Homo sapiens: one gene and its partners. The protein of the gene in region 3 interacts with the protein of the main gene of each other region in a biochemical or structural test. Each region holds a gene or a part of one and is shown on either strand. Other genes may lie near its edges.

Evidence for each region.
Region 1: the proteins of PML (region 3) and KLHL20 form a complex in vitro, tested with the Homo sapiens proteins (3 studies listed by BioGRID and IntAct, with this or other methods).
Region 2: of the proteins of PML (region 3) and RNF4, one has a biochemical effect on the other in vitro, tested with the Homo sapiens proteins (3 studies listed by BioGRID, with this or other methods).
Region 4: of the proteins of PML (region 3) and SENP1, one has a biochemical effect on the other in vitro, tested with the Homo sapiens proteins (2 studies listed by BioGRID).

What each region holds. Positions count from the first base shown.
Region 1 is NC_000001.11:173,709,790-173,718,783, reverse strand, and holds the start of KLHL20 (kelch-like protein 20), read right to left. Parts: upstream 3,804-8,994; 5' UTR 3,706-3,803; exon of another isoform or gene 3,314-3,705; coding exon of another isoform or gene 3,130-3,313; intron 2,782-3,129; coding exon of another isoform or gene 2,741-2,781; coding exon 2,718-2,740; intron 1-2,717. UniProt on the Homo sapiens protein: Substrate-specific adapter of a BCR (BTB-CUL3-RBX1) E3 ubiquitin-protein ligase complex involved in interferon response and anterograde Golgi to endosome transport.
Region 2 is NC_000004.12:2,471,221-2,479,478, reverse strand, and holds part of RNF4 (E3 ubiquitin-protein ligase RNF4), read right to left. Parts: intron 1-8,258. UniProt on the Homo sapiens protein: E3 ubiquitin-protein ligase which binds polysumoylated chains covalently attached to proteins and mediates 'Lys-6'-, 'Lys-11'-, 'Lys-48'- and 'Lys-63'-linked polyubiquitination of those substrates and their subsequent targeting to the proteasome for degradation.
Region 3 is NC_000015.10:74,018,012-74,026,269, reverse strand, and holds part of PML (protein PML), read right to left. Parts: intron 3,443-8,258; coding exon 2,862-3,442; intron 1,414-2,861; coding exon 1,343-1,413; intron 1-1,342.
Region 4 is NC_000012.12:48,041,805-48,047,745, reverse strand, and holds the end of SENP1 (sentrin-specific protease 1), read left to right. Parts: intron 1-683; coding exon 684-768; intron 769-1,294; coding exon 1,295-1,390; intron 1,391-2,361; coding exon 2,362-2,424; 3' UTR 2,425-4,849; downstream 4,850-5,941. UniProt on the Homo sapiens protein: Protease that catalyzes two essential functions in the SUMO pathway.

The DNA of each region.
Region 1 (8,994 bases), on a different chromosome or scaffold from region 3:
GTGCATGATATACTGACAGTGTCCTTTCAAATGCATTTTCTTATTTTTATTTATTTATTTAAAGAGATGGGGTCTCTCTCTGTTACACGGGCAGGAGTGCAGTGGCATGATCACCACAGCCTCGAACTCCTGGGCTCAAGCAATCCTCCTGCTTCAGCCTCCTAAGTAGCTGGGTAGCTGGGAATACAAGTGTGAACCACTATGCCCTACAACATTTGTGTCTTTTTTTTTTTTTTTTGAGACACTGTCTTGCTCTGTTGCCCAGGTTGGGGTTCAATGGTATGATCACGGCTTAACTGCAATCTCTGCCTCCCAGACTCAAGTGATCCTCTCACCTCAGCCTCCTGAGTAGCTAGAACTTCAGGCATCTGCCACAACACTTGGCTAAATTTTTCTTGTTTCCTTTTTGTAGAGATGGGGTTTTGTCATGTTGCCCAGGCTGGTCTTGAACTCTTGGGCTCAAGGGATCAGCCCACCTCAGCCTCCCAAAGTGCTGGGATTACAGGTGTGAGCCACTGTGCCTAGCCATCTTTTCTTTTTAAAAGCTACTAATGTTAGCCAGGTGTGGTGGCTCACGCCTGTAATCCCAACACTTTGGGAGGCCTAGGCAGGGGGACTGCTTGAGCCCAGGAGTTTGAGACCAACCTGGGCAACATGGCAAAACCCTGTATCTACAAAATAGAAATTAAAAAAGTGAAAAGAGAAGACATCTTATATACATTTGTGTATGAACTACAATGCCTCTAAAAGAATGCATAAGAAACTGCTTACAGTGGTTGCCTTTGGGAACTGGGGTCAGCAATGGGAGAGTTAACTTTTCACTGAATATCCTATTGTATCTTTTAAATTTTGCATTGTGCTATGCAAATGATAGTACATAAATAAATGAGGTAATGAAACTTTACTAATAAAATGCCAATTGATTTCATAAAACTTTATAATCAAAAATTAGAATACCTTTAACAATAATTTTCAGTCTTGTTCATAGATTTTTTTTGTTTTTTGGAGGGGGAAAGTCTGCAGAAACTGTTCAGTCCTATTCAAACAATTATTCAGTAATCGTTAGGTGCTAGTGATGCAAATATAGGAAGACATGAGACTAAAAGAGCTCACAATCTAGTAGACAGAATGAACATGTATTCAAATAGTCTCAATATAAAAAGTTACTTCTCAAAGCTTCTTTAATAGCAACTGAGTATAAACCCAGCATTACAGAGACTGCCTTCTGGGTTAAATCAGCAAAAATGACAGCCCAATAAGAAAAGGATAGGGAAGTGTGACCATGATTGAATGTAGGAAGCAGGTGAAAGTAAGACCAGAGACCAATGTGAGTAGGCTAGGCTCTGGCCAAGTGACAGTGATGAAGAAAGAGCCGTAGCTTAACGATTAACAGCACTAGAATTATCCAGCATGATTCTGAATAGCTGACAGTATTATGTAATAAAGCAAGAAAAAAGGAGCAGGTATGAGTGATTAAGCAAATATTTTATATAGACTACTGATAAACCAAAAACATTCCCACACTCTGCTATTCTTTTAAAAAATAATAAGCTCTTATTTTAGCAATTATATAAGATATGACATTTTATGGTAGCTGGAGATGAGACACAATCAGTGGGTTTTGCAATAATGTTAGAAGTAAAGGGATGAAGTATTTAATATTATGTTGTTAATTTTTTCATGTACATTGTGGTAAAATATTATTCCTACTACAGAGTAAAATATAAATAAGATAATGGTATTTTTCATCTTGATAACATCTTTTCATCTGGAGATCTTAAAGCATTTGCAAATGTTCATTAATCCCCAATATCCTGATCAGATACACTAAAGAAGTAAACTGGGGTACAGAGAAGGTGAACAGCTCAAGGTCAATTGATAAACCAATAACAGATTTGGATAAAGATATACATTCTGGTTCTTGCTCCAAGTTCTGAGTTATAAGTCATATTCCCATTATAAAATGTTTCTTCTCTTAAAAGAACTGCAGAAGTTGTTTATCTTTGATGTTAAATAACAAATGATTAAATAGAGTTCAATAAATAGAAAACAAATGTAAAAACCAAAGAAATAGAACTGGGATGATTTTGTATCATAAAGATTCTAGTCTCATTTGTTAGAACAAAATGAGAAAAAACATTATTAAATTCTAGGGTTGGGAGGGCCTATTTATTGTCTATATTTTCCCAGACATTGTTCTATTTTTCTATGGACTAAGTTATTATGTCTAATACCTATTTTAGTCCTTATACAATCTTCCCTACAATGCAGCTATTTTAATTAACAGAACAAATGTATGATTGAACATCAAGGAAATAACCAAAACCATAATTAGGCATGCAGTACAGTATATTATAAATAATTATGATTCTTACATGGGAACAGAATCCTCTACATTTTATAGGGAACTGAAGATTATAATAAATCCATATAGTATCATAATGAACTTAATGATTATTTACTGTAAAAAACATGAAAAAAGGAAAATTTAAGTGTTTAGCACTACATACAATCCACAGCACTTTTCAGAAACAACTTCTGTATTTTATTCTATTAAAAAGCTATTAATTCTTAATATTACTTTTGATTTATTGTAGAACAAGACTCATTAGTTCCAAGCAGAATTTAGTAAGATTGAAACTCTTTTTTAAAAATTTAAATTATTACATGCTGAATTTTAATCAGTGAAACCAAAGGTTTTCTTCCTAAATGCCTACCTGCGCATTGGCTTTCCTTCCATGCACCATGAAAAGTACCCTTCACCACACTCTAAAGCCGAACCTAAGACAACAGAAAAGCAGGAACTTAATAAAAGCTATTTCTGATCTTTACAGTAACAATCTTTATATAATCATTTCACTCATTTCGTCAGTTATCAAGAGTTTCATATCCTATTATACCACAGGCCTTCTGCAGATGCACAATAACTTAATCTAGTACATTTAAGATTACCATCCTTACTCTGCATGCTAAAACGATTAAAGTAAAGGTGAGGGAAAGTATGCTAAATAGTCCCGACTGTTAGGTCAGTCTTGTTTCTCTTCAAAAAGTGCTTGGAGATATTTAACTGTGATCTCGACATCAAGTATATTTACAGAACAAGCACCAGATACCCACAGCAGTACTAACCTGATAGATCACATAGGGTACACGAGGCTTTAATAACGAATCTGAAGATTGTTAACTTGTCCCGAAGTGACAGGAGGAGGAGGCGTCTGCATTTGCCTTTACAAACAACTCCGCTTCCGACAGTCCAGGGAGCTTGAACAGGGCAGGGAAAGTATGGCTCCAGACTAACACTCTTTACAAGCATTTCCTTCAGTCCCCGATACAATGTTCACTACCCACGTAGCAGGATTTCGCCAGGTCCCGAGGGTTAAATGGGGGCGCACGTACTTTCTTCCTTCCCTGAATTCCAAACACTGTCTGGGGAAGCTGTCCAGGATGCGAAACCCCAGCACCACCAGGCAGGACAAAGCCCGGGGCCTCCTCTGGCTCCCGAGATAGGCTGTCAGCCAGCGAGAGCGCACTCTGGCGCTCCGCGAGGCCCGGCCCCAGCGCCCCAACAGTCTCTTCTCGGCGCCGACTGACAGGCGACCGACCTGACCCCATGGGGCAGCTCAGCAACTTGGGACCACATATCTGCGAAGCGAGCCCTGGGGCGCTGTCCGCTGTCCCCTGCTCTAAGGTGACTGGCTCACTTACCGGCTCTGACACTTTCTTCTCTGCAGCAGCCTCCTCCGTCTACTCCGCCCTCCACTCCTCTCTGCCTCCTCCTCCACCGCCGCTAACGCAGGCAGGATGCCGCTCGTAGAGCTATTTCCTTTCCCTTCACCGGCCCATATCCAGAAGCAGGAAGTAGTCCTATTCTTAAATCGTTCCCGCAGGAACCCACATAATCCGCCAAGGGGTTCCGGTGCGGCTCCGGAAGTAGTCGTGCCCTTTGCTGGGGCATTCAGGTAACCTCAGAGGTTGTTTATCCTCGTGGGGGTTCCTTGTATCCCAAGAGTAACCATTTTTAGAATTCACTGCGGAACTGGCAGTATTTGAATACTGAAGCCTCCTCTTTTCTTCTTTGTTTTCGCCAGCAAAGGCAGTAAAGGGTAGTCACAGAAAGCTAAGAATTTGTATTTCTTTTTAGTTGGTGGGTCTCCTTTTGGCACAATGTTCCTAATTGTGGATTGAATTATTGCATGCACACATGGGTTGGCATGTATCTGTCAGGCCTCTACTATGTGCAAGGTGCAGAAGTTAGATAGACAGACCAGAGATAGACCTTATCCTCCAGATTTCCCACGGTCAAACTTTCAGGACACCAGGATTTTATCCAGGCTCTAAGGCTGTGTTAGTCTGCCCTTTCTACTTAGTATTCACCACCAGACACTTCACCAAACACATCTTCTGTGGATTCACTTTAATGTTAAGGAGGGAAGAGTATATTTTCTTAAAAAAATTTTTTTTCAGTAGCAAGCAGAGCCAAAAAAGTATATTTTTAAAATTATCTTTTCCTCCAGATTTTCCCATAGCACACAGCCACCTGATTTTTACCGTATATTAATATTTAGAAAACAAGTGATACAAGTGTAAGGTGGGGATTACAATTTCAGGAATATCAGAGAAAGACTGTTGCTGATTTCCTGGTAAGTATACTAGGCTAAGTATTAACCAGATTTTCTTTAGCTGTTCTTTATGTAGAATCTACACAGGTGTGTCCAGTTGTTTCTGAGGGGAAAGGATACCTCTTGTTAATTAGCTTGTAGTGGAAAATACATGGCCTTTAGATCCAGATATAGTGGCCCAGTGGATTCTTCTTGCCTGCTGCCCAGATACAGATGATTTATCAAGGTATAGGGATTGCAATGGAGAAAGAGTTTTACACAACATCGAGTGGAAAAATGGAAGAAGTTTTATTATTACTCAAATCAGTTATATTATTACTCAAATCGGCCTCCTGGAGCATTTGGGGGCTAGGTTTCTTTTCAAAGGTAGTCTGGGGAAAGGGGTAGGGGTGGCTAGGCAATGGGTGCTTGCTGCTGACTGGTGCAGTCATAGGGGTATGGGAGATGGTCCTCCTGCCTACTGAGTTGTTTCTGGGTGGAGCCACAGGAACAGTTGGTGGGTCCAGGTGGAGCCATCAGTAGTCAAACATGCAAAAAACTTAAAAATATACCCAAAAAGGCCAATCCTAGATTCTACAATAGTGATGTTATCTGTAGGAGTAATTGGGGAAGTTGCATATCTTGTGACCTCTGGAATAATGGCTGGCAATCACTTATGTCTACACTTAACAGAATTCAGGCTCATCTATCCCCGTTGTCTGGTGGTCTCTCATTAGCTTTACAAAGGCAATTGAGTTTTGGGGAAGGACTGTAATTATTTAAACTATTAAACTAAATGTCTCCCAAAGTTATCTTGGCTTAAGCCCAGGAATAATTAAGGACAGACTGAAAGCTAAAGGCAAGATGGGGTTTGGCTAGATCAGATCTCCTCCACTGCTATAATTTTCTCACTGATAGAATTTTTGCAAAGGGGGTTTCAGTTTGCAAAGGCGATTTCACGGATACACATAGGTACAAATCCTAGACCTGTAACTGACTAGCTTTGTGATCTTATTGAAAATTTTTACTGCATGTGTATATGTGATATATATACATATGCAGTAAAATGATTTCTTTTCCATATTTTAAAACTTTTCATAAATGGTATCAAAGCATATGTATTCTTTTGCAACTTCCATTTTCCACTCAACATTCTGTTTGTAAGATTTGTCCATGTTGATCAATGAAGGTCCAATTCAGTGATTCTCAAAGTGTTGTCCTGGACCAGCAGCATCAACATCACTTGGAAAATGCTAACCCTTGAGCCCCATTACAGACCTATTGAATCAAAAACTGAAGGTGGGCCCCAGTAATCTGTGTTCTAACAAGTTCTCCAGGTGATTATAGTGCATGGTAAAATTTGAGAACTACTGCACTAATTTATTTATTTTCACTGCTTTATAGTATTCTATTATATGAATATACCATAGATTTTTTAAAACATTTTTTTCTGCAGATGGATATTTTGACTATTTCCAGTTTTCTCCATTACAAACAGTGCTACAATGTAAATTCTTGCATATACCTCCTTGTGTACACCTGTAGGTGTTTCTTTGGGGTGTGCACGCAGAAGCAAAATTGCTGGGTTGTATGCTATGCACAGCTTCAACTGTATTAGCACTAGTCAAATTGCTCTCTAAAGTCATTATTCTATTTCAGTAATAATAATACTAGCAAATACTTATGTAGCATGTTATAGTAACTCATCAATACTCACACTAGTCCTCTCGAGGTAGGATCTATTATCATCATTCCAGTTTCACAGATGGCACCAAGATGTTATGTAAGTTGCCCAAAGTCACACAGCTAGTTATGAAGTAGAGCAATAACTTGAAACCATACACAATGGCTCTAGAGTCTGTGCTTTCAGCTACAGTGCTGTGTTGTCTCTCCATTACAAGTGTTTGAGGGTTTTTGTTGGTCTATATTATCATCACAGTTGGTGTTTTCCAACTTTAAATTTGTTTTTGCCAATTGGTTGGGTATAAAATGGTAATTCACTGTGGTTTAAATGTTTATTTCTCTCATTACTGTTCAAACATTTTTCATATGTGAAAGTGGCATTCAGATTTCCCTTCTGTGAATTGCTTATTGTAAAAGATACCTTCAAAGTGACTCCTATTTTTTCCGTAATATGAATTAAACTATTTTTATAATTCATAGTATAGGTATGAAAATGTTACTATATGGTATAAAAATGTTACTAAAAATGCTGCTAACCAAAGACTGATTTTAAAACTCCTGTCCAGGATAAGAGCAGTCCCTCCTATTTTTGTATATCTGTGATTCACTCCCCAACCCACTGCAATCTGGTTTGTGCTTCTGCTACTCTGTTTCTTTTTGAAGTGGAGAAGTTCAGTGTGAATCAACCCTTTTTATTTATGTCAAGACCTAGAGAACTCCATTTAGAGATGTGTTTATGGTAAACCTGGCATTTGCAGTAATTACAGTTTTTCTGCCACCTGAGTAAGACTATGCCCTTCGGGAGCCTGAATTTCTAGTGGAAAATACACATGAAATAGATTTTATTTAGATTGGGTGTGTGAAAGGAAAATATCTTGGGCCCCCAAAATCACTAAGCTAAAGGGAAAAGTCAAGCTGGGAACTGCTTAGGGCAAACTTGCCTCCCATTCTATTCAAAGTCACCCCTCTGCTCACTGAGATAAATGCATATCTGATTGCCTCCTTTGGAAAGACTAACAGAAACTTAAAAGAATGCAACAATTTGTCTCTTATCTACCTATGACCTGGAAGCCTTCTCCCTGCTTTGAGTTGTCCCACCTTTCCAAACGGAACCAAAGTTCATCTTACATATGTTGATTGATGTTTCATGTCTCCCTAAAATGTGTAAAACCAAACTGTGGTCTGATCACCTTGGGCACATGTCATCAGGATCTCCTGAGGCTGTGTCACAGGTGCATCCTCAACCTTGGCAAAATAAACTTTCTAAATTAACTGAGACCTGTCTCAGATTTTCGGGGTTCACAGGTATGAGGTAGTGACAACAGCCAAATAATTCTTTTCAGGGGTTGCTGAGCTTACCTTATAGTTTTTCAATCAAAAATTATATCTTGTTTCCAATGTATAAAATACAGTGGTTGGACCTAAGGTTTAGTTGTAGGTGAGACCCACAGGGCCCATTGTTTGTGGAATTTTCATTCTTCTTCTTTTTTTTTCTTTTTAAGTAGGGTCTCAATCTGTTACCCAGGCTGGAGTGCAGTAGTGCAATCACAGCTCACTGTTGCCTCTGCTTCCTGGGCTCAAGTGATCCTCTCCCCTTGTTACAGTAGGTGGCTAGCCAGGCATGTGCAAGGCAGGAGAGGGCTTCTCCCGCACCTCACCAGGAATGTCAGGTGACCATCGGGTGATGGTCAGGCAGTTGTCACGCTGCCTCTCTAATATAATAATTGGTTGCAAACAGCACCAGGGAAAGGCAGTTTCCCAGTAGATAAAAACACCTGAAACTGGTGGCAGCGTCTCAATAAGATCTCAGGAATTGGGTGAGTGGGCTCCAGCATGTGCATTAAAGGGCAAAATGGCAGAGTTTAGCTGGTATATGACCTTCCAGGGGCATTCCACCAGAATGGGAAGAACGCCTCAAGTGAGCATGTGTACAACTCCAGTAAACACACTCTGCATGCTCCCCTCCCAGGCACTAGCAGGCCATTGCACATGCGGACAACCCACCCCAAGGGAAGAATCAGGGCAGAAGGGATGCAAGACCCCAGAAGCATGCCAGCATATAAAATGCTAAGTCAGAAGGTCAAACTTCACACTTGTTTTCAAGTTGCCTGCTTGGACCTGTTCCACATGTACTTTCCTTCCTTTGACTCCTGCTCTAAAACTTGCCTCCATCTCTTCTGCTTCATGCCCCTCAGTCAAATTCTTTCTTCTGAGGAGGCAAGAATTGAGGCTGCTGCAGACCCATATGGATTCACCACCGGTAACAACCTCAGCCTCTTCAGTAGCTGGGACCACAGGAGTGTTCCACAATGCCCAGCTATTTTGTTTGTTTGTTTGTTTTGTAGAGACGAGTTCTCACTATGTAGCCCAGGCTGGTCTTGAACTCTTGGGCTCAAGTGATCCTCTCACCTTGGCCTCCCAAAGTGCTGGGATTAGAGACATAAGCCACCACACCCAGCGAATTTTTATTCTTGAGGAGACAGACAGTATAAAATTGAACCATGAATTACATAATTAGTTGTTTAATTACGATTGCGGTAATTGAAAGTGATCTACTGGGTGCTAAGAAAACACCTAGTAGGGTGGCTTATGCCTATAATCCCAGCTCTTTGGGAGACCCAGGCAGAAGTATTGCTTGAGCCCAGAAGTTTGAAACCAGCTTGGGCAACATAGGCAGACTTTGTCTCTACAAACAAATTAAAAATTAGCTGGG
Region 2 (8,258 bases), on a different chromosome or scaffold from region 3:
CCCATGATTCAATTACCTCCCACCGGGTCCCTCCCACATGTGGAAATTCAAGATGAGATCTGGGTGGGGGACACAGCCAAACCATATCATTCCACCCCTGGCCCCTCCCAAATCTTATGTCCTCACATTTTAAAATAAATCATGCCTTCCCACAGTCCCAAAGTCTTAACTCATTTCAGCATTAACTCAAAAGTCCAAAGTCTCATCCGAGACAAGGCAAGTCCCTTCCACCTATGAGCCTGTAAATCAAAAGCAATTTAGTTACTTCTTAGATACAACGGGGGTGCAGGCATTGGGTAAATACAGCCATTCCAAATGGGAGAAATTGGCCAAAACAAAGGGGCTACAGGCCCCATGCAAGTCCGAAATCCAGCAGAGCAGTCCAAATCTCAAAGCTCCAAAATGATCTCCTTTGACTCCATGTCTCACATCCAGGTCACGCTGATCCAAGAGGTGAGTTCCCATGGCCTTAGGCAGCTCCACCCCTGTGGCTTTGCAGAGTACAGCCTCCCTCCCGGCTGTTTTCACTGGGTGGTGTTGAGTGTCTGCAGCTTTTCCAGGTGTACAGGGCAAGCTGTCAGTGGATCTATCATTCTGGGGTGTGGAGGACAGTGGCCCTCTTCCCACAGCTCTACCAGGTGGTGCTCCAGTAGGGACTCTGCTTGGGGGCTCCAACCCCACATTTCCCTTCCACACTGCCCTAGCGGAGGTTCTCCATGAGTGTCCCGCCCCTGCAGCAAACTTCTGCCTGGGCATCCAGGTGTTTCCATGCATCCTCTGAAATCTAGTGGAGGTTCCCAAACCCTCATTGTTGACTTCTGCGCACTCGCAGGCTCAACACCATGTGGAAGCTGCCAAGGTTTGGGGCCTGCACCTTCTGAAACCACAGCCTGAGTTCTACTCTATGTTGGCCCCTTTTGGCCACAGCTGAGACGGCTGGAACGCAGGGCACCAGGCCCCTAGGCTGCACACAGCAGGGGAACCCTGGGCCCAGCCCAGGAAACCATATTTTCCTCCTGGGCATCTGGGCCTATGATGGGAGGGGCTGCCATGAAGGCCTGTGACATGCCCTGGAGACATTTCCCCCCACTGTCTTGGGGATTAACGTTTGGCTCCCTGTTACTTATGCAAATCTCTGCAGCTGGCTTTAATTTCCCCTCAGAAAATGGAATTTTATTTTCTAGCACATTGACAGGAGGCTGCAAATTTTCCAAACTTTTATGCTCTGCTTCCCTTATAAAACTGAATGCCTTTAACTGTACCCAAGTCATCTCTTGAATGCTTTGCTGCTTAGAAATTTATTCTGCCAGATACCCTAAATCATCTTTCTCAAGTTCAAAGTTCCACAAATCTCTAGGGCAGGGGCAAAATGCGGCTAGTCTCTTTGCTGAAACATAACAGGAGTGACCCTTGCTCCAGTTCCCAACAAGTTCCTCATCTCCATCTGAGACCATCTCAGCCTGGATTTCATTGTCCATATCCTTATCAACATTTTGGTCAAAGCCATTCAACAAGTCTCTAGCGAGTTCCAAACTTTCCCACATTTTCCTGTCTTCTTCTGAGCCCTCCAAACTGTTCCAATCCCTGCCTGCTACCCAGTTGCAAAGCTGTTTCCAAATTTTCAGGTATCTTTTCAGCAGCATCGCACTCTACTGGTACCAACTTACTGTACCAGTATGTTTTCACGATGCTAATAAAGACATACCTGAGACTGGGCAATTTACAAAAGCAAGAAGTTTACAAAAGCCAGTTCCAAATGGCCGGGGAGGCTTCACAATCATGGCGGAAGGCAAGGAGAAGCAAGTAAGTCATGCCTTACATAGATGGCAGCAGGCAAAGAGAGCTTGTGTAGGGAAACTCCCCCTTATAAAAGCATCAGATCTCTTTTGTTTTTTTAGATTAAGTCTACTCTGTTGTCCAAGCTGGAGTGCAGTGGCATGATCTCGGCTCACTGTAATCTCCACCTCCTGGGTTCAAGCAATTCTCCTGCCTCAGCCTCCCAAGTAGCTGGAACTACAGGCATGTACCACCATGTCCAGCTAATTTTTGTATTTTTAGTAGAGACAGGGTTTCACTATGTTGGCCACACTCATCTTGAACTCCTAACCTCGTGATCCGCCCGCCTTGGCCTCCCAAAGTGCTGGGATTACAGGCATCAGCCACCGCCCCCGACCTAAAGCATCAGATCTCTTGAGACTTATTCACCATCATGAGAACAGCATGGGAAAGACCTGCCCCCAAGATTCAATTGCCTCCCACTGGGTCCCTCCCACAACATGTAGGAATTCAATGTGAGATTTGGGTGGGGACACAGCCAAACCATATCAGCACCTGTATTCCCATTTACTTGGGACACTGAGGCAAGAGGATTAATTTAGCTTAAAGTTTGAGGCTGTAGGCAGGGCATGGTGGCTCATGCTTATAATCCCAGCACTTTGGGAGGCTGAGGCGGGCAGATCACCTGAAGTCAGGAGTTCAAGACCAGGCTGGCCAACATAGTGAAACCCTGTCTCTAATAAAAATACAAAAATGAGCTAGACGTGGTGCTGCCCACCTGTAATCCCAGCTACTCGGGAGGCTGAGACAGGTGAATCACTTGAACCCAGGAGGTGGAGGTTGAAGTGAGTTGAGAAAGAACAAGATTCTGTCTTTAAAAAAAAAAAAAAGTTTTAGGCTGTACTGTGCTATATAATTGCACCTGCAAATAGCCACTGCACTCCTGCCCGGGAAACATAGGAAGACAACCTTCTCTTAAATTAAAAAAAAAAAAAAAAGAAAGAAAGAAAAGGGCTGGACGTGGTGGCTCACACCTGTAATCCCAGCACTTTGGGAGGCCGAGGTGGGTGGATCACAAGGTCAGGAGTTCGAGACAGGCTGGCCAACATGGTGAAACCCCATCTCTAGTAAAGATACAAAAAATTAGCCAGCCGTGGTGGCACATGCCTGTAATCCCAGGTCCTTAGGAGGCTGAGGCAGGAGAATTGCTTGAACCCGGGAGGCAGAGGTTGCAGTGCTGAGATCGTGCCACTGTACTCCAGCCTGGGTGACAGAGCAAGACTCCGTCTCAAAAAACAAACAAAAAACAAAAAAACACAGATGATCATGATGGGAGAATAGGAGAGAACATTTCTACCTGAGGCATTTTCAACTTTTCAACTTGCAAGAGTAGGAGGCGAGAACCAACACTGGAAGACATCAAGAAGGTACTTACAAGGGAAGCAAATTTTAGTGCAGGTAACACAGAATGCTGCCATATTTAGGAGCAGAATTTAGCAGTAGTTTGGCTAAAGTAAGAGGTGAGGTGTGGCAGACAGGGAAATGCCTAGGCCCTAGGACAACTTCCCTTAGCTGGTGAGAGGAGAAAACTTAGGAAAAATAACTTTGAGGAATACAATACAGTTACTGAGAATCAATAAATTTTCTTGAGGATAATTATCAGACTCCTCTGCGGTGAAAGCAAAAATAAAGATACTATTTTGTTTTTACTATTTGAAGTTTCTAGAAACATTGGCCATGTGCTTTCCCACCACACAAAAAAAGCAGATGACATAACAAAGCCTAACAAAAGGAACAAAGGTAGGAGTCAGGGGTGGGGTGAAGTTTCGAGCTCTGCTTACTAATTGTGTGACCTTGGGCAAGTGACCCTGATCTCCCAGTGCCTCAGGAAGAGTAAAATGGGGCTAACTACAACAACTATCTTATAGAGTGGTTCTGTAAGAGAGTAAGAAGTAGGGAATCACTCAACCATAGATATTAAATCATGAGTCTGGAGTCTGAGACCAGCCTGGACAAAAGGGCAAGACCCAGTCTACAAAACTTTGTTAAAAATTAGCCAGGTGTGGGCCAGGCGAGGTGGCTCACGCCTGTAATCCCAGCACTTTGGGAGGCTGAGGCGGGTGGATCTTGAGGTCAGGAGATCGAGACCATCCTGGCAAACACGGTGAAACCCTATCTCTACTAAAAATACAAAAAATTAGCTGGGCATGGTGGCACGTGCCTGTAGTCCCAGCTACCCGGGAGGCTGAGGCAGGAGAATGGCGTGAACCTGGGAGGCGGAGCTTGCAATGAGCCGAGATCGCGCCACTGCACACCAGCCTGGGCGGCAGAGTGAGACTACATCTCAAAAACAAACAAACAAACAAACAAAAAGCCAGGTGCGGTGGCGTGCGCCTGTAGCCCCAGCTACTTGGGAGGCTGAGGTGAGAGGATCTCTTGAACCCAGAAGTTGGAAGCTGCAGTGAGTTACGATCGCACCAATGCACTCCAACTGGGGCAACAGGGAGATATTCTCTTAAAAAATAAATAAAAAATGCTAATGATCATTTGAGTCTTCACAAAGTTGTAATATTTTTGCTGGTGAAGGGTCTTGCCCTGATGATGGCTGCTCATGGATCAGGGCAGTGGCTAATGAAGGTTGGGGCAGCTGTGACAGTTTTTCTTTTTCTTTTTTTGAGATGGAGTTTCACTCTTGTTGCCCAGGCTGGAGTACAACGGCGCAATCTTGGCTCACCGCAACCTCTGCCTCCCTGGTTCAAGCAATTCTCCTGTCTCAGCTTCCCGAGTAGCTGGGATTACAGGCATGCCCCACCACGCCCAGCTAATTTTTTTGTATTTTTAGTCGAGACGGGGTTTCTCCATGTTGGCCAGGCTGGTCTGGAAGTCCCAACCTGAGGTGATCCGCCTGCCTCGGCCTCCTAAAGTGCTGGGATTACAGGCGTGAGCCACCGCACTGGGCCAACTGTGACAATTTCTTAAAATGAAGTTTGCTGCATCAGTTGTCTCTTCCTTTCATGAAAGATTTCTCTGTAGCGTGCAATGCTGTGTGACAGCATTTTACCCACAGTGGAACTTCTTTCAAAATTGGAGTCAATCCTTTCAAACCCTGCCACTGTTTTATTAACTAAGTTTATAAAATATTCTAAATCCTTTGTTATAATCTCAACAATGTTCACTGCACCTTCAGCAGTAAATTCCACCTCAAGAAACCACTTTCTTTGCCTGTCCACAGGAAGCAACTCTCCATGTGTTCAAGTTTTATTTAAAAATTGCAGCAATTCAGTCACATCTTCAGGTTCTACTTTTTTTTTTTTTTTTTTTGAGACAGAGTCTCGTTCTGTCAACCAGGCTGGATGGAGTGCAATGGCGTGATTTCGGCTCGCTGCAACCTCTGCCTCCTGGGTTCAAGCGATTCTCCTGCCTCAGCCTCCTGAGTAGCTGCGATTACAGGTGCGTGCCACCACACCTGGCTAATTTTTTTGTGTGTTTTTAGTAGAGACGGTGTTTCACCGTGTTAGCCAGGATGGTTTCAATCTCCTGACCTCGTGATCCGCCTGCCTTGGCCTCCCAAAGTGCTGGGATTACAGGTGTGAGCCACCTTGCCTGGCCCTTTTATTTTTTTGAGACAAAGTCTCACTCTATTGTCCACGCTTGAGTGCAGTGGCCCGATCTTGGCTCACTGCAACCTCTGCTTCCTGGGTTCAAGCAATTCTCCTGCCTCAGCCTCTGGAGTGGCCGGGATTACTATGCAGTAACAATCCCACTACCACGCTCAGCTAATTTTTGTATTTTTAGTAGAGACAAGGTTTTATCATGTTGGCCAGGCTGGTCTCCAACTCCTGACCTCAGGTGATCCATCAGGCCCAGCCTTCAGGCTCTACTTTTTTTTTTCTAGACAGAGTCTCGCTCTGTCGCCCAGGCTGGAGTGCAGTAGTGTGATCTCGGCTCACCACAACCTCTGCCCCTCCAGGTTTAAGCAATTCTCTGCCTCAGCTTCCAGAGTAGCTAGGATTACAGGCGTGCGCCACCACGCCCTGCTAATTTTTTGTATTTTTAGTAGAGACGGGGTTTCACCATCTGGCCAGGCTGGTTGTGAACTCCTGACCTCGTAATCCACCCGCCTAGGCCTCCCAAAGTGCTGAGATTACAGGCGTGAGCCACCAGGCCCGGCCAGGCTCTACTTCTAATTCTAGTTCTCTTGCTATTTCCACCACATCTACAGTTACTTTTTCCATTGAAGTCTAGAACCCCTCAAAGTCACCCATGAGGGTCAGAATCAACTTTTTCCAAGTTCTTGTTGTGTTAATTGATTTTTTTTTTTAAGACGGAATCTCACTGTTGCCCAGGCTGTAGTGCAGAGGCACAATCTCGGCTCACTGCAGCCTCCACCTCCTGGGCCCAAGCGATTAACCTACCTCAGCTCCTCAAGTAGCTGGGACTACAGGAGCGTGCCACCATGCCTGGCTAATTTTTGTATTTTGTTGGTAGAGACGGGGTTTCACCATGTTGGGCAGGCTGGTCTCAAACTCCTGACCTCAGGTGATCTGCCTGCCCCAGCCTCCCAAAGTGCTGGGATTACAGGCGTGAGCCACCGTGAACTGCTGATGTTGATATTTTGACCTCCTCCCATGAATCACAAATATTCTTTTTTTTTTTCTTTTTTGAGATGGAGTCTCGCTCTGTTGCCCAGGCTGGAGTGCAGTGGTGCTATCTTGGCTCACTGCAAGCTCCTCTTCCCGGGTTCACACCATTCTCCTGCCTCAGCCTCCCGAGTAGCTGGGACTACAGGTGCCCGCTGCCAAGACCGGCTAATTTTTTGTATTTTTAGTAGAGATGGGGTTTCACCATGTTAGCCAGGATGGTCTCGATCTCCTGACCTTGTGATCCGCCCACTTCGCCTCCCAAAGTGCTGGGATTACACGGGTGAGCCACCGTGCCTGGAGACAAATATTCTTAATGGTATCTAGAATAGTATATCCTTTCAGGAGGTTTTTAATTTACATTGTTGATACCCATCAGAAGAATCACAATCTATGTAGCTGTAGCCTTACAAAATGCATTTCTTTCTTTCCCCCTGCCGCCCTTTTTTTTTTTTTTTTTTAAGAGACTGGCAGTGGAGGGGGTGGTCTCACTATGCTGCCCCGGCTGGTCTCTAACTCCTGAGCTCAAGCGATCCACCAGCTTTGGCCTCCCGAAGTGCTGCGAGTACAGGCATGAGCCACTGTGCTCAGCCTCAAGATGCATTTCTTAAGTAAGATTTGAGAGTTGAAATTACTCCTTGATCCATGGGCTGCAGAACAGATGTTAACATTAATCTTACTCATCTCCATGAGACCTCTTTGGTGACTAAGCACATTCTCAATGAGCAGTAATATTTTGAAAGAAATCTTTTTTTCTGAGCTGTAGATCTCAATAGTGGGCTTAAAATATTCAGTAAAACATACTGTAAACAGATATGCTACTATACAGGCTTTCCTGTTTCAATGATCAGCACACAGTAGATTTTTGCATACTTCTTAAGGGCCCTAGGATTTTCAGAATGGTAAATGAGCACTAGTTACAACTTAAGTCACTGGCCACACTAGCCCCTAACAAGAGAATCAGACTGTCCTTTGAAGCCAGGCATTGACCTTTCTCTAGCTATGAAAGTCCTAGATAGTATTTTTTTTTCCATATAAGGCTGTTTCATTTACATTGAAAGTCTGTTGTTTAGTGTGGCCACCTTCATCAATTATTTTAGCTATATGTTCTGCATAACTTGCTGCAGCTTCTTCATCAACACTTACTGCCTCACCTTACACTTTTACATTACAGAGGTGGCTTCTTCCCTTAAACCTCATGAACTAACCTCTGCCAGTTTCAAACTTTTCTTCTGCAGCTTCCTCACTCTTCACAGAATTGAAGAGAGTTAGTACCTTGCTCCGGATTAGGCTTTCGCTTAAGGGAATGTCATGGATGGTTTGATCTTCTATCCAGACCACTAAAACTTTCTCCCTATCAGCAATAAGGCTGTTTGGCTTATCATTCATGTATTCATTGGAGTAGCATTTTAATTTCAAGAACTCTTCCTCTGCATTCACAACTTGGCTAACTGTCATTCAGCACAAGAGGCCTAGCTTTTGGCCTATCTCAACTTTTGATACGCCTTTCTCACTAAGGATAAACATTTCTTAACTTCACTTAAAGTAAGAGAGATTCAACTGACTGCTCCTTTTGCCTGGACACTGTAGGGTCACTGACTGGCCTAATTTCAATATTGTGTCTCAAGGAATTGAGAGGCCTGAGGAGAGAGACTGGGAACTGCCAGTCAGTGGAGCTGTTAGTACACACCCAACTTTTACCAATTAAGTTCACTGTCTTATATGAGTGCTATTCATGGTAACCCAAAACATTGATCACAGGTCACTATAACAGATGTAACAATGAAAAGGTTTGGGGCTGGGCATGGTGGCTCATGCCTGTAATCCCAGCACTTTGGGAGG
Region 3 (8,258 bases):
GAACCCCGGAAGCGGAGGGTGCAGTGAGCCGAGATCACGCCACTACACTCCAGCCTGAACAACAGAGCGAGCCTTCATCTAAAAAACAAACAAACAAACAAACAAAAAACAGAGTCAGCTTTTAATCTTGCCCCTAATTTGCTGTGTGTAGCCTTGGGTAAGTCACATCCTTTCTGGGTCTTAGCTTCGTCCTCTGTGAAAAAAAGGGGGTTAGACTCCATGCTCTTGCCTGGCTCTAAAACTCTGAGACTCTTAAGTCCTGTCTCTTCCAGGAAGCCTCTCCTGATTGCCTCAACCTACAGCACTCTCTCTCTCCTATGGGTCATGCCATGGCAAAAGCTAGGCCCCTACCCACCACCAGAAGACCTGCTGTCCATGAAGGACTGGCCAGTCCTGGGCCAGATCCTTGATAGGCTAGGCGCATGCAAACCTGAGTGACTAGGCTAGGGAAGAGACCAGATGCCAAGTCCAGGAAGAAACCGAGGATGCTTATTCTGGTGGAAAGGAGCCATACTTGTGAATGCCAAAGGGGGCAAGTCAAAGGGACACCACTGCATTTCCACTCGGAAAAGCACTTTCTAAGTCAGAGCAGTCCAGAGTTGGGAGCAGCTGCCTCTAGAATGAGCAAGCTTCCTGTCCCTGGAGATGTGTACATGAAAGCTGGACAGCCACAGGTCAGGGGTGCTGCAGAAGGAATGCCAGCATTAGATGGGACATGGATACCTTGAACCCTGAGACAGTCTGCTTTGTTACATGTATGGTGGCCCTGGAATCACACCAGCAGAACCCGGGCAACTGGGATCGAAATCTGACTCCTGGCACCATTCCCCGTTCCTTTCCAAGAACCATCTGTGGGGAAAGAGCAGGGGAAGGCCCACCTATTCTGACTCCAAGAGAAGGCTCCCACATTGGGGGTAGGGTGTAGGAGGGGAGAGGACATCTGCACATCCCTCAGGACTGCTGACCCTATATCTAACCATACATCTGACAACCATAGTTTCTCATGGCTGGAAGGCACTAATATGCCATCTAATGCTGGAATTCCCTCTGCAGCAGCCCTGATCTGTGGCCGACTGTCTACCCCACATCTAACCCCCACTGAACCTGGCTCATGGCCCATCAAGAGCAACTTTGGCATTTAGGAGCCTAGAGTCAGAGCCAGCTAGCCAGCCAACCCTTCTTTAATGTCTTCCTTTACTTCCTCTCACTGAAATTTCCAGTCCAGCCACTTGCTGTCCCTCACTCAGACGCTCTCCCTGCACACACAGGGACAGCAGGACTCACAACCTGCCTGACCTGCTGGGCCCCACCACCACCCCTTCAGACCTCAAACCCATCTCACCAGGTCAACGTCAATAGGGTCCCTGGGAGTGCTGGCAGCCTCTGGGCTGGCTTTCTTGGATACAGCTGCATCTGTAGAACACAAAGAAGGTCACAGGCAGGTCAAGGACATGCTGGTAAGGGACATCCTGACCTGGGACAGTGATAGAGAGGAGGTCCCTGTTGCTTTTCCAGGATACCTATTTTCCAGGGCATCCCAAAGCACTGGACAACTCCCTGGAGGGGCAGCTGGAAGGAGAGCTCTCTCGAATGCAGTGGGCAGGAACCCAGCCAGAAGGGAAAAGGAGGTGGCATTAGAGTGCTTGCTTTTGGCTCCAAACCCCAAGTGTACCTCTCTCCATCTCTGAGCCAACAGCAAGGCTAAGTGTGCGCAATCATAAAGCCATCACTACCGGCTCACTGACTCTCTACATATAGTGAGAGCTCCATGATCTTCCTTATCTGCAGCCTGGTTTTTATTAAATCTAAATCTCTTATGCTTCAGAATAAAATAACCCTTCTCTCTGCTATTGCCCAGTTATAACACCCAAGGCAAGCTGTGTAAACTCTGTGGGGTCATTTCCTTAATATGGGTGACATTCACTACCTAGGTGGAGAAGGCACAGGTCCAGGCCCTCTAAGATTATCCTTCATGACCCATGTCCAGCTCCAGGAGAAGTAAATAAGCTCTTTGTCACTGGCACCCTACCCAGGTGCCTTCAGATTCCATAGCCTCCCTCCCCTTTCCCAGTAAGGGCATCCTATACTAGCTGCTCAGAGCTCACATTCCAGCTTGGAGATTTAGTCAAAGACTCCTGGAGACTCTCTGGCACACTCCCCCTACCCCTTATTTTGAAAGCCCCCCTGTTCCAGCTAATACACAGCTGCTACATCTCCCGGATTTGGATTGCAGAGCTGAGCACTGTCTCATTCTCCAGCTACGTGAAGTGGCTCTGGCTCCTTGAGATCAGAAACTAGTCTGTGTCTCCTTACCTCTCAAGCGTCCAACACTAGGCAGGGCGCGCAAAGGTTGGCAGACAGCAGGTCATCCTGCAGACAAGGGATCTCCTCCACTGAGCCACTGTATGGTTTTGGGTAAGCATCCAACCATCCCCAGGAGGTTTTCTTAGCCCCCTTCTACCGTAACCCCAGGTCCCAATTGACTTCTCTGTTCCGAGACACCGGTGGCTTAAGAGAACCTCCTGAAGTGCTTGGTCCCTCTGGCGCCAAAATGATACTGGGTCTGATTCTCAGCTTTGCAGTTTTTCAACTTTCACGTGTTCCCCATGAGTCATCGCTAGGTCAATCCACAGAGTCTTGTAAATTAGTAAAATGTGTCCCCTCTGGGTGGCTGCAGCCCTTTGTCAGGGCCTCATCTCCCCCTTATCCTGTGCCCTGGAACCTAAGACCTTACCAACCCCCAAAGACTGAATAAACACCCAGTTTTCTTTTCTGTCAAATGGAGATGATCTCTTCTGACTCGCCTTCCCTAGGGTGCAGCAGAGGCACAGGCCGCCCAGGAAGGTGGCGTGCGTGCTTACCTTTCCCCTGGGTGATGCAAGAGCTGAGGTCCTGCAGGCGCACCTTGAACTCGTCGAAGCCATCGGTGCGCACGGCAGCTTGCAGGCTCTGGGGCTCCTCCTGGCGCAGGCGGCAGAGCGCCTGGCGCAGGAAACCGTGCATGTCCAGCACCTCCTGGTCCGAGGCGTAGCACTTCATCCTCTGCACCAGCGCGCTGCCCGTGCGGATGCGCTGCAGCACAGCATCCAGGCGGCCCAGCCGACTGGCCATCTCCTCGTAGTCGCGCTGGTACCGCGCGTCCACAGCCTCCAGCAGCTCGCGCTCCTGAGCCCGCACGTGAGCTACCACCTGGCGCACGCGCTCGCGGATCAGCTCCTCGGTCTCGGCACGCGCGCGGCCCAGCTGGCCGACGGCCGCGTGCATCTGCGCGTGAACCGCGCCAAAGGCACTATCCTGCTCCTGCAGCGCCTGCGTCATGGCGTCCAGCTCCTCCTGTCGCTGCTGGATCTCTGCGCTGATGTCGCACTTGAGCTCACTGTGGCTGCTGTCAAGGAGCGCGCACGAGCAGCACAGCGGCTTGGAACATCCTCGGCAGTAGATGCTGTGGACACACAAGGTTGGCCTGGGTTAGGACTCTCCTGACTTTTTCCTCTTAAAACGTTCGTTATTAAATTCCTCTTCCAAAAATACCAGACTTTGAATCATGGCATGTTTCTAGGTTTCTGCTTTTCCTAATTCAGTGTTTGTGGTTATGGTGATAGTATCCAAACTACCAATAACACATGAGTATAAAAAGTTACTACAGTAACAATTTCAACATCCGGGAAACAATACAAAGATATACGAAACGACAATCATCTCTTTCCACCACTTCTGAATTTCCCTTCCCCACCGAGGAAGCACCAGGTGAGCATCGTGGGGTGCACCCTTCCACACATCTCTCCACTGAAACCGCCTTACACAAATGCCAGACTGGGCTGCTGCTTGCAGGATGGTACAGACTTGACACATGTCAGCCATGCCACTTAACCTTTGCAAGAGCCCCTTGAGTGAGAATTGTCGTTATACATATTTCCCAGAGGAAGAAACAGAACATGTTAAATGATTGACCTAGATATCTACAATAATTTTGGGGGCTGATGTTTGTTCAAAAAAAAAGAAAGAAAGAAATCGGCCGGGCGCGGTGGCTCACGCCTGTAATCCCAGCACTTTGGGAGGCCGGGGCGGGAGGATCACCTGAGGTCGGGAGTTCAAGACCTGCCTGACCAACATGGAGAAACCCCGTCTCTACTAAAAATACAAAATTAGCCGGGTGTGTTGCCGCATGCCTGTAATCCCAGCTACTCAGGAGGCTGAGGCAGGAGAATTGCTTGAACCCGGGAGGCGGAGGCTGCGGTGAGCCCAGATGGTGCCATTGCACTCCAGCCTGGGCAACAAGAGCAAAACTCCGTCTCAAAAAAAAGAAAGAAATAAATCAAGTCATATAATTACTTTGAACTTCCTCCTCTCAACGAACTTTCACTCAGAGCATTCCTCTAGGTGCATAGGCACAGATCAGATGTATTCTCTTTAATAGCTCTGGTATATCCCAGATGGGCCACAATTGATTCAATCACTGTCGTTTTGCTGGCATTCAGGTAATTTCCTGTTTGTGCATTTTCTTTCTTTCGTTTTCCTTTCCTTTTTTTTTTCTTTTGGTGCCAATATGGACAACACTTTAGTAATATCCAAGTTATATAGCCTAATCATGGAAGCTTTTGTTCCTATGAAATAGATTATAAATATAGGCCTGCTAGATCAAAGTGTTTGTATTTTAATATTTTTATTTGGTTATTTTTTTTTTGAGATGGAGTTTCGCTCTTGTTGCCCAGGCTGGAGTGCAATGGCACCATCTCAGCTTACCGCAACCTCTGCCTCCCGGGTTCAAGCAATTCTCCTGCCTCAGCCTCCCGAGTAGCTGGGATTACAAGCATGCGCCACCACCCCGGCTAATTTTGTATTTTTAGTAGAGACGAGGTTTCTCCATGTTGGTCAGGCTGGTCTTGAACTCCCGACCTCAGGTGATCCACCCGCCCCAGCCTCCCAAAGTGCTGGGATTACAGGTGTGAGCCACCGTGCCTGGCCTGGTTAATATATTTTAGCTAGCAGATACTTCCATAGCATTTATTGTGTCTCAGATACTATTATAAGCATTGGCAAATATTTACTCATTCAATCCTCCTGACAATCCAGTGGAATAGATACCATTATTATCCCCATTTTAAGGATGAGAAAACTGGTGCAAGAGGCAAAATAATTTGTTCAAGATCACACGATTAGTAAGTGGTAGAGTCTAGATGCAAACTGTAGTAGCAGAATAGTGGCCTCTAAAGATGTCCACGTGCAAATTCCTGAGACCTGTGAATATGTCACCTTACTATGGCAAAAGGGTCTTTGCAGGTGTTATTCAATTAAGGACTTTGAGATAAAGAGATTATTCTAGATTATCTGGGTGGGTTCAACGTAATCACGTGAATCCTTTCAAAGGAAAGGGCAGGGAGGCAGGAGAATGAGAGGAGATGTGATGTGATGAATGCAGAGGTGGGAATGTTGTGATGTTGCCGGCTTTGAAGACAGAAAGGGGCCATGCACCAAGGAATGTGGGCAGCCTCTAGAAGCTGGGAAAGGCAAGAAAACGTTCTCCCTGAGAGCCTCCCAAAGGAGCAAAGCCTGCTGACACCTTTATATACCTCAGTGAGACCTGTTTCAGACTTCTTACCTCCAGAACCATAACAGAATACATTTACATTGTTTTAAGCCCCTAAATTTGTGGTAGTTTGTTACAGCAGCGAAAGAAAATATAAAAACCCAGGCAGTCCAGCTTAGAGTCCATGTTCTTAACCATTACAAGGCTGCTTCTTCAAATATTACCAGGGAAAATACTGTTAGTTCCCCAGAAATATTGCTGTAATTTACTCTCACCGGCAGTGATAAGAATAAGTCTTGGTGGTGTGCGCCTGTAATCCCAGCTACTTGGGAGGCTGAGGTGGGAGAACTGCTTGAACCCAGGAGGTGGAGGTTACAGTAAGCCAAAATTGCACCACTGTACTCCAGCCTGGCCAACAGAGCAAGACTCCATCTCAAAAAAAAAAAAAAAAAAAAGGAATAAGTCAGCCCACCTGAGGCCAGAAGAAAGGGTCTCATCTGGGACTACACTGAGATCAACTTGTTCTGGAACCACCAACAGAGAGCCTACTAGCCAGCCAGACTGATACATAGTGCTCATCAATGCTACGTTTAATTAGAAATACTAAGCAATTATGAAAAGAACTAATAACTCTACAGAAGGCAATTTGGCAATACCCATCAGAATTACAAATGCATTTAACCCAGCAATCCTCTTTCTTTGGATCTGCTCTGCAGCTCTATCTCTACACATAACAAGATGATATCCATACAATATATTCACTGCAGCACAGTCCACAATAGCAAAGAATTAGAAGCCACCCACGTGTCCCTCACAAGGCAATTAGTTACATAAATTATGATCCACCCATACAACGGAATACTATGTAGCTGTAAGCCATTGAGGAAGCTCTTTATATACTGATAAGGAAAATTCTCCATGGAGAAATGAGGTTAATAATAGGAGTACTGGAAGGATTAAATGAGTTAATATATGGATAAAAGTTTGAAAAATGACTGGCATACAATGAGTGTTCAATAAATGCTAACTATTTGTATTATTATGATATATATTTTAAGTTAGAAATCAAGGTGCAGAAATGTGTGTATCAGATGCTACCTTTTGTGTAAGAATGGGGAAAAATAAGAATATCTTCATAGTTGATTGTATTTGAATAAATAAATATTAAAAGGACATGCAAATTAATAAAAGTGGCTATGGGATGGGTGGAATGAGGGTAGAGTAAGACATTCACTGCATACCTTTTTAGATTATGTTTGAGCCTTGTGAATGTATGAATGTATTCCTTTTTTTGAAATTAAAAAACAGAATACTAATAAATGTGGGCAATTCTATAGGGTATAGGAATAAAGGGAAGAGAATAAGAAACAGTTGTTATTTTCCCCCTTTGGATCTTGGACACTTGGGGAGAGGGGCTGTGTCTGATGTTGGATCCCCTTCCTTGGAGACAGGGTTCCAAGCCTGGAAGGGCACGCCTCAGGCAGCCTGGCTGGATAGAGAGCAAGACGTTCTGGATGGCCATAGCCTCCGCTGGGTCCTTTTTCTAAGCTTCTTTTGTCCTGAATGGGGTCTCCCTAGGGTGACTGGCCCCTGCTTTCCCTCTAGATGGAAATGGGCGGCAAGTGTCTGTGAGGTGGCTAGCCTGAATCAGACACCTGGGTCTAAAAGCCCCCAGCCCTCTGGTAAGACTGAGGTGCAGATCCTGAATCAAAGGGCTGCCACCCAGGGCCAGGAATGACCTTAGCCAAGCGGTTCCTTTACCTTCATTCAGAGGACACTCACTGAGTACCTGCTGCGTGCTTGGCACTTTGGAGGAGGCAGAGGTGAAGTGGGAAACTGCCCAGAAGGGCTCCGTGACAAGAACCCAGACTTAACCGTATCTTCAGAAAGGCGAAATAACATCTATTTGCTTCTGGAATACTCAAAACAATAAGCAAAAACACCACTAACTTAATAAGAAATTGCTCACCAAAGTGGCTAGATTACATAATAATTAAGAAAGAAAAATAGCATAATTCTATCTTAGCAAAGCAAATGAGAAGAAATATGGGAAAAAAATCCATCTTCCCATTCACAGCAGCTATTTAAAAAATTCTACAAAGCCATGATTGTGTGCCTATAGTCCCAGCTACTAGGGAGGCTGTGGTGAGAGGATTGCCTACACCCAGGAGTTCCAGGCCAGCCTGGGCAACTCAGCAAGAACTCCATCTCTAAAAAACTTTTTTTAAATTAAAAAAAAGAAGGTACAAAATACCTAGAAAATGACAAAAACCTACTAAGAGATAAGACTAAATATTATAAGATTATTAATTCTCCTTGAGTTAATAAACAGGTTTAAGGCAATTTAAATTATTTTTGAAACTTAACCAAAGTATTCTAAATTTCTTTTCTTTCTTTTTCTTTTCTTTTTTTTTTTTTTTGAGACTGAGTCTCACTCTGTTGCCCAGGCTGGAGTGCAGTGGCACAATCTTGGCTCACTGCAATCTCTGCCTCCCTGGTTCAAGTGATTCTTGTGCCTCAGCCTCCCAAGTAGCTGGGACTACAGGTGTGAGCCACCATGCCTGGCTAATTTTTTTTGTATTTTTAGTAGAGCTGGGGTTTCACCATGTTGGCCAGGCTGGTCTCGAACTCCTGATCTCAGGTGATCCACCCGCCTCAGCCTCCCAGAAGTGCTGGGATTACAGGCGTGAGCCACCACGCCTGGCTAGGTTTCTAAATTTCATATGAAGGA
Region 4 (5,941 bases), on a different chromosome or scaffold from region 3:
TTAATCCAACCTCCTAATTTTTCAGATGAAGAGACCAAGGCCCACAGAGGTGCCTTTGATTTGCCCAGGTCCTATTAGTTAGTGGCTCAGGTGGACCAGAATGCAAATCTCTTTATGCTCCACCTGTTTCATTTTCCAAAATACCTATTCCTCACTGTACCACTCTGATGGCCAGGAGGAAGTACATTCCACAATGGTGAACAGTTTGCACTTAAAAGAGAGCTCTATTGAAGGTATGCACTCAATACATTGTTGATTTGGATTTAATTTTTAGATAGGAGAGCCAAGCCTAACAGTAGTAAATAAATACCTCAATAGTACCAGAAAAACACTTTTCTTCCATTAGATTGAGTTCTAAAGGACCATATAAACCAAGGAAAAGAATAAAAAGAATTGTTCCTCAGAAGGAATGGTAGGTAGAAGGAGCTTAACTGTTAGAGGCAGAGGTCATGTTCCTTTTGAGTTGACAGAGTGGACATTAGAAGAGACAAGCTAGAAGAGGCATGCTCAGCTCTGGAGAAAACTTAACAATCCAGGGATTCCCTGCCCAGTATTATATACTCTTTTCCTCAGAAGAGCAGATGAAACAAATTTGTTCCTAGGTATTGTCAGCCCCATTCTTAGTGTGGCAGCTGTCATCGATGTTCCCCACTGCTTATCTCATTCTCTCCTGATACCTTTAGGCAATACCTAAAGCAAGAAAGCATTGACAAGAAAAGGAAAGAGTTTGACACCAATGGCTGGCAGCTTTTCAGCAAGAAAAGCCAGGTACCTTTCATCTTGATGAAATAAAAGTCCTAAAAGTAGGGTATTTGGGGAGGAAAGAATTTTACTGCTTAATTCCCAGGGACCACCTGTGTTCGTGTCTAGCCTGACTTCAGCTTGGTTGGTTGGTTTCTGGGGGAGGATAAATTAAGCTATCCGTAGGAAAAGTGATAGTGTGTTTCTTATGTAGAACTAGGTTTTCTAAATGCCCAGATATTTTACTAAGCTTTTCACTCCTAAGGGGAATGTTTGCTGATTATTTGGCCTCTGGGGGAGGGAGCAGTTTTTATACCCTTAGGTGCCATGGGAGTCGGAGATATTCTCCTGTTTGATTAATACAGAGTACACAGACCTGACTGGAATGTTGTATTTTGTTTCTTTGAGCCTCTGTTGTCCTGACTGGGGGGCCAGAGTCATCTGTTTGTAATTTAGAGAAACCTGTACAATTTATATCTTTTGGTTCTTATTTTTAATCTAAGAAGGAAAGAAGCTTGGAAAGATGTCATTTTTTTTGTTGTTGGTCTTCCAGGAGATTCCTCAGCAGATGAATGGAAGTGACTGTGGGATGTTTGCCTGCAAATATGCTGACTGTATTACCAAAGACAGACCAATCAACTTCACACAGGTGAGCTGAGCCTTCCATAGGGAGCTCTAGGATTACTTTGTCTCCAAGCTGCCCTGTAGATGTTTTTCTCTCCAGTTGTTCTCTTTAGGGGCCTCTACCCTAACCTTTAGCATGCTTCAGCCCATGATTCATAACACTGATGGTTACTACCTGAATCACATCACAAAAGAAAGAAAATTAGTGATAAGCCACGTCCTGGGTTACCACACCTCAGTTATTGTAGTAAAGGTTTCAAGAGCAGAACCTTCTCTGCCTGTCTCCTCTACCTACTGTAACTTCTAGAGAGAACTGGGACCAGAGCAGGTTTCTTTAGTTCCCTTGCATTTCGTTAGTAGTCAGGTTTGGGAATAGGCCATACCTCAATCTCCTAGTGTAATTTGTTATGCTGCCCCCTCCCCTGACCCCTCACTTGATGAATCTGGTCAGTCTTCTCTTAGAGAGTGATTGGTCATTTCTGTCCATGTGGTCTCTCAGACCAAAGTGGATTGAGATTAGAGATTATGGTTTATTCTGATGTGTTCTCCACTTTTACTTCTGTTTGAATCAGTGACTTTACCAGATTTTTCTACCATAGCCCTTTGTCTAGACCAGCCTGAGCTGACTCTTCAAGTTCCCTTAATTCTTCTAAAAGGTGAATTTTTTATTTTTAGGCCTAGGCTCATATCCTCTTAAAAGTTCAACATAGAAGACTTATTAGACACCATTCTCAAAATTCTTAGAGACGTGGGCATAGCCTGGGGATTCCTGGAAATACCCAGTGTAACTTCTAAGGCTATAATGGTGAAAAATAACAATAGAAAAAGCAATGAAAAGAAAAAAACTACATGTAACCAAGAATGAATAATTTAAAAGACCAGAAATACAACTGAGACTGTTTGTTGAAAACCTTGCAAAAGAAAGAAGTATGGGGAAAGGCGTATCAGGTCTAGACAAAAGCATTGAAAATTAAGGGTGTCTCTGTGTCCCTACAGCAACACATGCCATACTTCCGGAAGCGGATGGTCTGGGAGATCCTCCACCGAAAACTCTTGTGAAGACTGTCTCACTTAGCAGACCTTGACCATGTGGGGGACCAGCTCTTTGTTGTCTACAGCCAGAGACCTTGGAAACAGCTGCTCCCAGCCCTCTGCTGTTGTAACACCCTTGATCCTGGACCAGGCCCTGGCGAGATGCATTCACAAGCACATCTGCCTTTCCTTTTGTATCTCAGATACTATTTTTGCAAAGAAACTTTGGTGCTGTGAAAGGGGTGAGGGACATCCCTAAGCTGAAGAGAGAGACTGCTTTTCACTTCTTCAGTTCTGCCATCTTGTTTTCAAAGGGCTCCAGCCTCACTCAGTCCCTAATTATGGGACTGAGAAAAGCTTGGAAAGAATCTTGGTTTCATATAAATTCTTGTTGTTAGGCCTTACTAAGAAGTAGGAAAGGGCATGGGCAAAAGGTAGGGATAAAAACCACCAGCATATACATGGACATACACACACACCCACACACACAAACACACACACACACACAATTTTCACGATGTATGGTCAGGAATGTGACTGTAAACTGGACTTTGGGGCCCAGGCATAAGTCCCTTCCTCCAGGACCTTTCCTATTTATATGTCCCTATACAAAATCCATCTGCTTTTATACGTAGCTGTTTTATCATCTGTAGCTTCATCCTATCCGGAGGCACAGCACATGAGCCCTGGACAGGTCCCAAAGTTCCAAGCAGTCCTTTCCGTGAAAGCAGGGGTTTGCATGTGCTACCAACACATGATACGGGGAAGACCCACCCAGGGAGCGGTTTCAGTGGCGCAACAAAGCACCACTTTTACTGTTGCCTACTTCTGACCAAGAAGAAAAAGGACCTTAGTATTTAGCATAAAATTCCAGCGCTGGATGAATGCAGATCTAGTTTGGTCTGTGGCTAGTTTAAATATGTTTCTAACCACAGAGAATTTCATATATATATACATATATATATACACATACATATATATATATATATATGTATGTATAAAATTTCACAGGGATATGCTTTTTTTTTTAAAGACTGAATGTGTTCACCATTTAGCCTGTAGATTTATTTCCATTTTCCAAATTCCAGCACACAGAGATCCCAGCCCCTATGAGTAGGGTGTTTGTGGACTACCTAATGGAATATTTTTGAGGCCTGGATGAACTTTGCCATATGGGTAGAGGTTACAGAGGGAGGTGATATTTTCAGCTAAAAAAAAAAACGGGTGGAGTTTGGACTGATCAACTTGAGATTTAAAAACTGCTATTCCTTTTGTTCTTTCTAGCATCTCTCCCCACCCTCTGAGAGCTCCTCAGGCTTAGATAGTGAAGTGATCAAATGCCAGTGTCATTTTGTACTTAAGTTCCAAAGTAGGAACATTTTATACTTTTTTCTGTATTGTAATAGGTAGTTTTGTATGAAATCTTTTCTCCTCTCCCGTTGTACCGCATTCTTTCCAGCATTGTGCTTTTTCCCTGGGCTTATTTGAAAATTTTACTGTTTTATACAAGCTCGTTTAGTACATTTTTCTATGTTTTACCACAAGTTACAATTTGAAAAGAAAACTATTTTTTTTAAATATTCCATTGTTAACTGAATGTTACTGTTTCCACTCCAGCAACTACATGTCCTCCCTTCAACTGCCTGCCTTTTGGGGAAAGACCACCTTTTGTGTGTTTGTTTTTTCTCTCTCTTTCTTTCCCTTTCTCTTTCTATCTCTCTTTATTTTTCTTTCTTTTTCTTTGTTTTTGAGTTTTCTATAGGAAATAAATAGCTTTCTATATATGAGTTGCTGGGGACCTTCACATTCTCTTTTAGAAAGCTGTGGCATGCAGTCTCATTGCAGGACTCCTGGAATATTGTCTGGTTCTTGGTATTTACTGTATGTAAGCAACAACTTGAAAGGTGGCAATATGGTGTCGATTTGGACTATGAATCAAAAGACCTTTTTCAGGTTCTTTCACTATTGTCTGGGGGACTCAGAACAAGATTGTTCTCTGTATTTATTGTTTGTCCATTTAGGTAACATCTGTCTTACCTTCCTCACAGACTTTGTACAGACCAAAGCAACAAATATTTATTGCCATGTATAGCAGAAAATGAAACATGCAACAAAAGCACTTTGAAAAATATATAAGGAATTGTTGAGCCTGTCTGAATTTGGGCCCCCTTTCTGACTAATGCAGTTTTGCACAAGGTAGAAGTTAGTGACCCTGAGACCATCTTACCACCCTGGACCTGGTCCAAATACAGACTTACACAGTGGACCATTCTTTCCTGAGCTAGCCAACAAGAGCAGGAGTAGTATCTGGAAACTTTCCCCTTTGTTTAGGGGTAGGCTTTGATGACCAGGAAAAAAAAAAAGGTATTTCTGCATTTTATGGCCCAAAGGCATGTTATTAATATCTTATGTAATTTACTTTAAACTAAATAAGACTTTTTTCTCCTGTGTTCCCCTTTCTCCTGTGTCCACTGCTCATATTCACCTGCCTTCCCTAAAAAAGGAATATTTGAGGGATGATAAGCACTAGATGCCAGCTATAGAGACCTCAACAGAAACCATAATCCCAAGAATCACTCCGAGACCCTGAACAGAGAATATCAGACAGACCTTTCTTACCCATTTGAGAAACACATGGTCTGAGGCACAGAGGCTAGTTACATCCCATTTGTCACCTGGGACCCACCATTGCTCCCAGGAGTCCTATTTAGGGTTGAATATAAGAGTACTTTTCCCTCATCCAGTCTGGGGAATTTGTGTCAATTGACTCCTCTGTATGAGATGCTTCATACTTCTATGTGGAATTAATTTCTGTATTCTTTAGCCACTGTAATCATGCTAGCATCTTCTATCCACTGCCCCCAGCAATGTTAGCACCAAGATCCTGAGGTAGAAACAGAGATAACCTGGAAAAGCACTTCCACCAACCCCATCTCATAGCCTGTCCATTACTGCCTGGTTTTACATGGCCCTTAAGTGGCTCTAGTGGGTAAAGGGGGAAGAGTTCACTTGAGAGCCCCAATGTTTTTAATGTTTCAGTTTCTGGTCCTGTGCCATCCCTCCAGCTTTTAAATATGTCTTGCTGGAGTAAGAGAGAGGACTGACACCTGGGGTTTCTTTTTGTTTGGTCCACCTGGATGGACTAGCATGAGGTGGAATATGATGCTTTCACCCTGGGAGTTCACATACCCAAGAGAGTCAGAAAAAGAGGTGTTAGGCTATTAGGCCCTATTGTTAAACAGGCCACGTGCTGAACTACTGGGAAGGGTACCTTATTTTCCCGCCCAGGAGCAATGCATCTACAGCTTGGAATTCCATGGGAAGGGACAAGGCTCATCCCAGCATCCTTTATTATAAGTCTAGGGCCTTGTTTTACCTGTACTGACTCCTAACATCTGTCTACTAAGAACACACACTACCATTCCCAGCTTTGAAGGTGGAAAAGGAAACGTGGGACAGAGGGTTATGCTGGTCACCTGTTAAAATAAAGGATACCTTACACATACTTCCTTTGTGGGAGAGAAAAGAGTGGCTAGGAGGCTTT